Linked DNA regions of Homo sapiens: region 1 is linked to region 2. Evidence: fine-mapped expression QTL. A gene starts in region 2. The other region holds a variant in brackets. All regions are shown on one strand. Distances are between the middles of the regions. Region 1 overlaps BRAF (B-Raf proto-oncogene, serine/threonine kinase). Region 2 holds the start of BRAF (B-Raf proto-oncogene, serine/threonine kinase).

Region 1 (5,378 bases), 86 kb after region 2:
TGGCTGAATATTTCATCATACACATATATCATGTTTTGTTTATCCATTCATCAACTGATGAACATTTGGGCTACTTATATGTTTTTGCCATTATGAATAATGCCACCATGAACATTCACGTGCAAGTTTTTGTGTAGATATATTTTCATTTTTCCTGGCTGTATGCCTAGGAATAGAATTGCTGGGTCTTGTGGTAACTCTGTTTTACACTTTGAGGAACTAACTGCCAGACAGTTTTTCAAAGTTGCTGCACTATTTTGTATTCCTAACAGCAATGTATGAGGGTTACAGTTTCTCTCCATCCTCATCAACCCTTGTTATTATCTATTTGTTTTTTTAATTAAAGCCATCTTAGTAGGTGTGAATTGGTATTTCATTTGGTTTTGATTTGCAGTTTCCTAATGACTAATAATATAGAACATCTTTTCATGTTCTTGTTAGCCATTTGTATATCTTCTTTGGAGAAATGTCTATTCAAATCCTTTGCCCACTTAAAAAAACTGGGTTTGTCCTTTTATTACTGAGTTGTAAGAGTTCTTTAGGCCAGGCATGGTGGCTCACACCTGTAATCCCAGCACTTTGGGAGGCTGAGGTGGATGGATCACTTGAGTCCAGGAGTTCGAGATCAGCCTAGGCAACATGGCGAAACCCCGTCTCTACAAAAAATACAAAAATTATCCAGGCGTGGTGGTGCATGCCTGTAGTCCCACCTGCCCGGGAGGCTGAGATGGGAGGATCGCTTGAGCCTGGGAGGCGGAAGTTGCAGTGAGCCAAGATGGCAGAGTCACCCAGGCTGGAATGCAGGGGCACCATCTCGACTGACTGCAACCTCTACCTCCTAGGCTCAAGCCATCCTCCCACCTCAGCCTCCCGGGCAGCTGGGACTACAGGCATGCGTCACTGTGCCTGGATAATTTTTGTATTTTTTGTAGAGATGGGGATTTGCCATGTTGCCCAGGCTGGTCTCGAACACCTGGACTCAAGCAATCCTCCCGCCTTGGCCTCCCAAAGTGCTGGGATTACAGGTATGAGCCACCGCACCTGGCCAGGAGTTCTTTATATATTCTAGATAGTAGATCCATGACTTGCAAATATTTTCTCCCATTCTGTGGTATTTTTTCCCACTCTTTCAATTTTGTCTTTTGAAGTACAAAAGTTTAAATGTGGATGGAATTCCAATTTATCTATTTTAAAGTTTAAATGTGGATGGAATTCCAATTTATCTATTTTCTGTGGTTGCTGTGCTTTTGGTGTATCATACATGAGAGACCATTGCCTAATCAAAGGTCAGGATGATTTACTCCTGTGTTTTTTTCCTAAGAGTTTTATAGTATTAGTTATATAGCCAAAACAGGTTTAGTTGCTTGCTGCCTGCAGAGTCCAATTAGTAAGAGCAAAGTCTAGTATAAAGTGACTTTTTTATTCCAAAGTTAGCTTAAAGGAAGAAGACGTACAGGCTTCCTGCCTTAAGGGTACTGCTTCCCTGTTGGAGCAGAAAGTGGGTGCTTTTAAAGAAGGTGCCTACACGGGGGCAGAAATGAGCGGGTGGAAGATCTGCATATTCCCTTCGGTGCCTTCTTTCTCAGGCAGTCAAGTTGGTGGCTTCATGGGCAAAAATACCTCAGAGGTGGCTGAAAACTCTAGCAGTCTTACTTTTGGTTGTAGATCAACTATTACCTCTTGAGGCAACTTCCTGACGGGTGAGAGTTCCACTCAGGATTGTCTAAGCACATAATTAGATCAACTTGCCTTGTAGGGAATGTCTGGTGAAAAGGAGATAAAAGGCCATAATTGCATTTCTTTTATTCTTTTATCTTTTTCTTTTTGAAACAGAATCTCATTCTGTCACTCAGGTTGGAGTGTAGTGGCATGATCTCGGCTCATTGCAGCCTCTACCTCCTGGGCTCAGGCGATCCTCCCGCTTCAGCCTCCTGGGTTGCTGGGACTATATGTGCATGCCACCATGCCCAGCCAAGTTTCATATTTTTTTTAGAGATGGGGTTTCACCATGTTTCCCAGGCTAGCCTCAAACTCCTGGGCTCAAGTGATCTGCCTGCCTTGGCCTCCCAAAGTACTGGGATTACTGGTGTGAGCCACCACCCCTGGCATATAATTGCATTTCTAAAGAGCTAAGTAGGAAGTGGGGAGGAGGAGGAAAGAAAAAAATAATTAAACTTTTTCTTAGAAAAATGAGGGTGCTCAATTATATAATAGATATGTGACCCATTTTGTTTTGTTTTTAATTTTTGTAAAGATGGAGTCTATGTTGCCCAGTCAGGTCTTGAACTCCTGGCCTCGAGTGATCCTCCAGCGTTGACCTCCCAAAGAGCTGGGATTGCAGGCGTGAGCCAACATGCCTGGCCT[A/G]TTTCGAGTTAGTTTTTGGATATGTTGTGAGGTAGTAGCCCAACTTCATTCTTCTGTGTGTGGATATTCAGTTGTACCAGCGCCAGTTGTTGAAGAGACCATTCTTTCTGCATTGAATTGTCTTGCTGGCTTTGTAAAAAAAAAAAATCAATTGACTGTAAATGTAAGGTTTTATTTCTTGTTCTATTGAGAAATAATTCACATACTATATTATTCACTTTTTTAAAGTGTGTAATTCAGTGGTTCTTAGTGTATTTACACAATGGACAACTGTCACCACTATCTGATTCTAAAATATTTTTATCATTCCCACAAAGAAACCCTTCATGCATTGGAAGTCATTCCCTCCAGCCCCTGACAACCACTGATCTACTTTTTGCCTTTATGGATTTACTAGTTGTACCTTGTTCTATTCTGTTCTATATGTGTGTTCTTATTCCAAAATTATTGCGCTGTCTTGATTACTATAGTTTTATAGTTAAGTTTTGGAATCAGGAAGTATAAGTCCTCCAACTTCTTTTTTCTTTTATAAGATTGTTTTGATAATTTCAAGTCCGTTGTATTTCCATATGAATTTTAAGATCAGCTTGTCAGTTTCTACAAAAAAAAATTGAGATTTTGAGAAGGATTGCATTGAATCTGTAGATCAACTTGGGAAGCGTTGTCATTTTAATGATATTAAGTCTTCTTAGATTCTTTTTTCTTTTTTGAGATGGAGTCTTGCTCTCGTTGCCAGGCTGGAGTGCAGTGGCGTGATCTCAACTCACTGCAACCTCCGCCTCCCAGGTTATCAATTATTACTAATACAAATATTTATTGGATTTTTGCTATGTGGTAGTCTCTACAATAATTTGTTTTACTTGTGTTATCTCATTTAATCCTCACAAAATTATTTTGAAGTTGAGAAAAATTTGCCATATAAAGAAGAGTATGATAAAATATTCTAAAGGAGATAAAGAGAAAGGATACCTCTTCTGGATTTTGACAAAGAGAGCTTAGAATTAGACTTTTTGAAAAATATTTAGAGTTTTGATGAGAAGGAATAGGGTTTTTGAACAACTGTCTCCTGAAGAAGTGGTATCTGGTATCTGCAGCATCTTGAATAACCAAAAGAAATGGTGGTGGTGGTTGTGGTTGAGGTTTGCACATATGTTGGAGTGGCTTGCTCATATTAGTAGAGTGAGAAAACAGAGGAAAAGGGAAAAGTAGATGATATGAGAGAAAACTGAGGGAATGGTAGACTAAGGCCCTAAACACCCAATATTAGCACTGAAGTGAGAGTAGAAGAAGAATGGGGAAAGATGTGGAGAATTTTGTAGATAAAGAAGTAGAGTAAACTTTTCATTTGATGACTTTGATCTTCAGAGTGGATTTGAAGGTAATGTTATTTTCAGAGTGAATTAAAAGTTGAAGGATGAAGTTAAGATCCAGAGAAGAATTAGGAAGATTGGAATAACTGTTTTGACTGTAATATGATGTTAAAAACAAGCATGATTTTCAGGCAGTAGTGTGAAGGACCAGGCAAATCTAAGTTCCATAAATTGATCATAGAACTAATTAGACCAGTTTTATTATTTTCTCCAACAGTGTGTGGTAACCTGACAGGAAAAAATAGAACAATTGAATGGTCAGACTTACCCAAAATTTGTATCTGGCAAGCTAGTTGATAAAATAACAAGAATTAGCCTGAAAATCTTAAGATATCACCAATGGCATTGTTGTAGTTGTGAGCCGCAAAGTATGTGAAGGAAGACAACAATGGCCAAATCTTAGCAACTGTTTGAGAGATTAATGTTGACCTTGAACAGATTAATGTAATGAGATAGACATTTAAGAAGTTGGGATAAGTATGTGTGCCCCAGGGGTGCGTGAGGTTCTAAATCGAGATCATTTCATCATTTTTATTGCTTTTGTAAAGACTGTGATGCTTCTCCGGGTCTTAAAGGTAGAATGGAAATAAATGCTTTTAGAGGTGAGAGGTTTAGAGAAATCTATGGCAGTGTTAAAAGAGTAATTGAAGTTCATATTGAATGCAGCAAGGGCAGTAGGTAAAATGAGCCAGGGGCCTTGGTAGATTGCAGCTTTGAGGATAGGGACAGATGGAATAAGTAGATGTTTTGTACTTAACAAAAGGAAAAGCTATTGATAGATGTGGTGAAGTGATAGTTTATAATCTGTCATGGAGGGATCAGTATACTTTCAAAAATTAAAGCTAACATTTTGGTAAGGAAATATGTTTGGAAAATTGTTCTTTTCATTACTTTTCCTAAGGTTTATTTTGTCTAGTAACTGTACTTGCTCAGGTGACAGTAAATAAGAATATTTTATCCATGCAGGAGGAACCTTTGTGTTCCAGACTGCATTTATGTGATCTTCAAAGAGTAGGAATTGTGTTTGTCTTATGTGTGGTTGTAGTCTGAGCCCTAACAGTGCCAAGCACATGTATCAGTATATATTTACTGAGTGATTGAAGGCTCAATAAATAAATTTTATTGAGAGAAGTATGCTTAAGTAATTAGGCCTTGGTACTGAAAGCTAAACCAAATTGTAGCTCAGAAAATTTGGAATCTATCTGTTTATAATGCCCTCATCTACTATGAAACAGGGTCTGGGTAGGGCAACTAGCAGGCTGTAAACAAAGAAGACCTTTTGATGAAGTTTAAATCTCTTCCTCAGTAGCTCTTGTTACTATTCCCCGCCCCCCTTATTTGTTCGAAAGTATGTGGTAAGATGCAGCATAGCAGGGTCCTGTGGCCCTTATTGAAATGAAATTTCTCTTTCATTCTCCTCTACATTTTATAATTCTCCCTTCCTCCCTTACATTCAGACTTGATAGCATGGCGTATATACTCTCTACAATCTATTCCCTTTCACCTTTTCAGCCTTATTGTTTCTTTACCTATTTTTCATTTAAATTTCTTTCTTTCCTTTTTAAGAAAACAGGGATGCTGCTAAAGCTTCATTTAAATTTCACAAACATATATTGATCTTTTGCTATGTCCCAGGTATTGTAT
Region 2 (5,378 bases):
CTTCATTTTATAGATTAAAAAACAAAACAACAAACAGGGATTTAAGCTTACCTGCTTTGAGATTGTATAGCTAAGGTGTGGAGTGCTGACGCTAAAATCCTGATCTTTGGACTCCAAAGCTTATGCTTTCTCTCGTTTCTCATCTGGATACTGTAGGACTTTAGAATGGCCTAAGGAAGTAAAACAGGATATATCCAGAATTTTAAGGCAAGGTCAGAAAATGTCAAATGAGTAGAACGCTAAGAAGAATCAATATTAAATGGATGAGACCAGTCATCCTGTGGAGAAATAATCATGGAAGATCTGAACTACAGACTGATACTGACAAATAAGGCTAGAATTCAAAATGGAACCAATGTGAGGATAAAAGCCTTTAAAACTTTTAATGTTATAAGGAAGTGTTATAATGATATAACATTTTTAGCAGCTAATTTTTTAAAAATGAAATAGGACAGTTAGAGAATTAACAAAAATCTTGCCAGTTGTGTTTCTGATGAAAGGGTGATGAAAGGGTGATGAAAGGGGAAAAGGTGCCATGACTGGCTAATGGTGCTATTTCAGTCTGCTTCTAAGTATGTCCTTATAGTAAAGGGTGCTTCAGATTAGTTTAGCTTGATGACATCATCCCTTGTGATCATTTACTCTACATTTGCCAAGCCACTTTTTGATTTAAATTTATTTCCTCATAGAAACTTTCCTACTTGGAGGAGAATGTACAATGAAGTTAACAAAGCATACCATGTTCATGTTTTTTTTTTTTTGGAGACAGAGTCTGGCTCTGTTGCCCAGGCTGGAGTTCAGTGGTGCAATCTCGGCTCACTGCAACCTCTGCCTCCCAGGTTCAAATGATTCTCCTGCCTCAGGCTCCTGAGTAGCTGGGATTACAAGTGTGCACCACCACACCAGGCTAATTTTTTGTACTTTTAATAGAGATGAGGTTTCACTACGTTGGCCAGGCTGGTCTCAAACTCCTGGCCTCAGGTGATCCATCCGCCTCAGACTCCCAAAGTGTTGGGATTACAGGCGTGAGCCACTGCGCCCGGCCTACAATGTTCATCTTATAGGTTATATTTTTTCAATGCAGAAGAATGTTAGTATTCTCATTCATCAAGCAGCCTCACACAGCATCCTTTACCTGAGAGTAAGCATCAGCTCCCAGGCTTACGGTGACCCTAATCAATATGAAGACACCCTGTTTCAGAAGTCAGTAGGACACCTTTCTATTTCTTGAATCATCCAAAATACAGTAAGGAGGTCGCTGGTGACTTCCCCCATGATGGGAAGTACTAAAAGGCAGAATCCACTTAGTTTTTCATGACTTCATGTTTAGGTTACTTTGGTGATTCACTCCAGGCCATTGGGAGCCCACAGTAATTGTTTCTCATTCCCGTTTCTCTCTTCCTTAAACTTTTCTTTTCCAATTATTTATTCTTTATTAGATCCATGTATTTTTAATAATGAATTGAATTTCATTCTGTAATTGGGCTTCTCAAAGATAATTGACCTCTTCTCTCCCAATTGTTTTCATGCGTATTTTGCAGAGAATGCTTGGAATATTCTGTTCATGAAAGGCACAAAGTACATAAAATATTTTGAGTGATTTTCTTCAAAATAAAAATGATTAGTTTTGATGCTTCAGATGTCTAGAATGCTATGTGCCTTGTACAGGCCCTACGGCATGGAAAGTGCTCAACTGATATTTGTTAAATGAATGAATCTGGAAAACGAAAAATACACGAAATATTTTATTCCTCAACAATGAAGAAAAAGCTTTCAGACTTCCATTTAGACTCGTTTTAACTGGCTGAATTCTTCAATGAAAAGAAAACACGCGTCGCACTGCTAATTTAGCTGTTCCTAAATATATTTCCATCAAATTCTGCTTGGCTGTTTCAACCTTGGGGTTGAAGTTCTTATTTTGATGACACAGAGACGTTCATTGCAGTGGAAATAGCAAGTAGTATTGGCTTCCCCGCCTTCCTCCCTCTAGGATTTCAACTTCTCCTCCTCGAACACCAGCCCTGCTCTTCTAGTAAATCCCACATTACAGAACAGGCTGAGGACGGAGGAGACAAGAGGAAAGTAGGAAACCGGAGCCATGGAAACGGCGGAGCGGAGGCAAAGTGTGAGAGCGCGGGTGGTTAGAAGGGAAAAAACCCTCCCCGGACGACGGCGCGAAGGCGCGCCTCAGATTACGTCACGCACCGGGGTGACGTCACGACCGTGACACGCGGGTGACGCCGTTGCCGCGGCGACTTCTCGTCGTCTCCGCCCCCTTCCCCCGCTCCCCCCCGCACCCCCGCCTAGCGTCCTTCCCCCAATCCCCTCAGGCTCGGCTGCGCCCGGGGCCGCGGGCCGGTACCTGAGGTGGCCCAGGCGCCCTCCGCCCGCGGCGCCGCCCGGGCCGCTCCTCCCCGCGCCCCCCGCGCCCCCCGCTCCTCCGCCTCCGCCTCCGCCTCCGCCTCCCCCAGCTCTCCGCCTCCCTTCCCCCTCCCCGCCCGACAGCGGCCGCTCGGGCCCCGGCTCTCGGTTATAAGATGGCGGCGCTGAGCGGTGGCGGTGGTGGCGGCGCGGAGCCGGGCCAGGCTCTGTTCAACGGGGACATGGAGCCCGAGGCCGGCGCCGGCGCCGGCGCCGCGGCCTCTTCGGCTGCGGACCCTGCCATTCCGGAGGAGGTGAGTGCTGGCGCCACCCTGCCGCCCTCCCGACTCCGGGCTCGGCGGCTGGCTGGTGTTTATTTTGGAAAGAGGCGGCGGTGGGGGCTTGATGCCCTCAGCCACCTTCTCGGGCCAGCTCCGCGGGCTGGGAGGTGGGCATCGCCCCCGTGTCCCTCTCCGTCATGCAGCGCCTTCCTACGTAAACACACACAATGGCCCGGGGGGTTTCCCTGGCCCCCACCCCAGATGTGGGGATTGGGGCAGCGGTGGTTGAGCGGGAGGCTATCAATAGGGGGCGAAACTCAGGGTTGGTCCGAGAAGGTCACGATTGGCTGAAGTATCCAGCTCTGCATCTCTGTGGGGTGGGGGCGGCGGCGGCCTCGACGTGGAGGATATAGGTTAGTTGCTGGGGCTGAGACAACAGCCCGAGTTACTGTCGCGTGTAATTCTTACATGGTCGTGGGGATGATGGGGCTCATCATTTCCTCTCTCCTCTCCCGGACTGCCCCCCTTCTCAGTCCGCTGCCCTTTTTCACTTTTCTATTTGGGGATTTCTCTTCACCTGTTTTACCCAGCAAATTATTTTGATTTAGTCTTTACTTTTTCAATCCTAAATCGCAGTTTCCGATGCCTTTTCTGGTCTCTGGTCCTCTGTTCCTAATGTTTGTCAGCGCTCTGTCGCTGATTGGTAACCCCCATTCTATTCCCATCTACCGCCCGCTCATTTTCCAGTTGTCGGACCTGCCTGCCTTCTAACCCCAGCTCCCACTTAAGAGCATTTTTGCACTTCTCTTACCCTGGTCCTCTTGAGGCTCTGTACTTGATCTCACCACTCCCTAACATTGTTGTCTGTTGTTATCTTCACAAATCCTCCTGGACACTTTGGAGCTACTTGTTTTCTGAGCCCAGAAGCTGTCAAGATTCCATCAGGTTTCACTTGGCTCTTTTCGCGCTTGCACTACTGGCACTTTTTGGCTAGTCGTCCATTGTGCATTCACACCTCTTTATTCCTACCCATTTTTATAGGTCTGATTGATTTCTTAGTGTTGTCCTCCTTTTTGTCCTATTTTTTTCCTTTTCCTTTTTCCTCTCCAGTCCTTGCTTCTCTCAGCCTGTTTTTGCATTAGTCAGCCTCTTAGCACTGTGTCAAATTATTTACGTTTTTTTATTACATAAAATTTATTACAAATATTTGGTATTTTATTACAGAAAATAATACTTTATTATGCTTTACAAATAAGATATGGTATAATAATTGTGGTTTACAGTTATTGATTAGGTAATGTGACTTACTCTGTTGACTTTGCTCGAAGTTCTCTTTGCTACTTACTATTAACATCTAATTTCTCAATTCTCATAACATCTCATTCTCTCTGCAATTTTTTTTTTGCATCATCATCTTTGGAAATTCATCCAATATGCTTGCTTTATTCAGCATCAGCTTGTTTATGATAATGTTTGTTTTCTACTCTTTATATCATCTTTGTTACATGCCCAAAATGTGTTCTGTACCATCATTTGATCTGTTCTAAAATTTCTCATTTTTAAGTTTCTTAAAATCATTCCACTTTTCAGTATGCATTTTTGCTTAGATCAGTTTCCTCTCATATCTGTTCCTTTCCCCCAGCTTCTTGATTTCTAAGGAGAAAGCTCTTCTCTACTTCAATTTCCTAGTTTATTCTGTTTCCCTTGTTTCCAGTTACCATTCATTTTGCCTTGTTTCCTGGCTTTTGGTACTTAACTTTCTGAAGCTTCCTCTTTTCTTCTCCACACCTCCACGTTCCTTCTTATTTATAAACATCTTTGTTTCCTTTGACATGGAAATTTATTTTTAGGATACATTGTTTTTAATGGATAAATACTAGGGGTCACATCTGCTGTCTGTTTTCTCCAGGAATCGGATATGCCTTTGTCTTAACCAGGCACAGGTGCCTCTGGATTTTATTTTACTCTGTAATAGATGTGTAGTTTTGTTGAATTGTATCTTGTTTGAAGACTACTACAGAGTGGAACAATGAGTGAAGTAATAAGTAGGGGTTATGAAATTGTAATTCTCTGATTATAAAATTGTTTATCTTGGGAACTTTGCTGCAGAGTTATTAGAACCGTTTGCAATTCTGTAAAGAAGGCTTTTGTGAAGTAAAATCTCTACCCTTCTATTTTATTTGAAAGGGCCAGATTGTTTGGAACTGTACCCCCTGAAGAGTCTGATTTAGTAAGTGAGAGCGAGGGCCATGGATTTCTGTATTTGGCACATGTCTTGAGCAGTTCCCATGTACCAATCCTTGAGAACCTCTAGGCTAGCTGAATTTAAGTATAAATTGCCAGTAATTGGAAAGCATATTCATATCTTCTGAAACTATAAGGATACTCTCATTTTACTTGGTTAAAAAACAAGTGTTTCCTACTGTCCTCTTTACCCAGGTTTTAATGTTTAGTGGTGAACAGTAGTTTTCCCTCTACATTTTTTTCTGAACTGATAATAAATGTATTTGGCTGGGAGGGTGACATTGATTAAAAAATGTATCTCTTGAATGTAAATATCAGTATTACAGATGATAAAATAAATTCCTCCAAGAAATAATTTTAAATTTGAAGTTGATATTCAGTGGAAACTGAAATGTGCTGTGGTCTTTTATTTGAAGTCTTCCTTACATTCACTTAAAGGGATCTTTTACTGCAAATTACATGGAAAGAATGAAAAGGTTTGCTTGTGTGTAA

Evidence for each region.
Region 1: its variant is fine-mapped to the expression of BRAF in whole blood (TOPMed, PIP above 0.99).

Annotation. Positions count from the first base shown.
Region 1 is chr7:140,836,178-140,841,555 of GRCh38, reverse strand. All of the region lies in intron 2 of BRAF (B-Raf proto-oncogene, serine/threonine kinase), which reads left to right. Among named protein-coding and RNA genes, the nearest start is that of BRAF, 86 kb to the left of the region's middle. The variant A/G (reference allele first, on the strand shown) is at 2,365.
Region 2 is chr7:140,921,863-140,927,240 of GRCh38, reverse strand. It overlaps BRAF (B-Raf proto-oncogene, serine/threonine kinase), which reads left to right and starts at 2,312. Exons shown (of 18, transcript NM_004333.6): 1 at 2,312-2,675. The coding sequence starts at 2,538. LOC105375536 (a long non-coding RNA gene) reads right to left here and starts at 2,149. Exons shown (of 5, transcript XR_002956518.2): 1 at 739-2,149; 2 at 52-170. RefSeq lists a silencer at 2,420-2,489.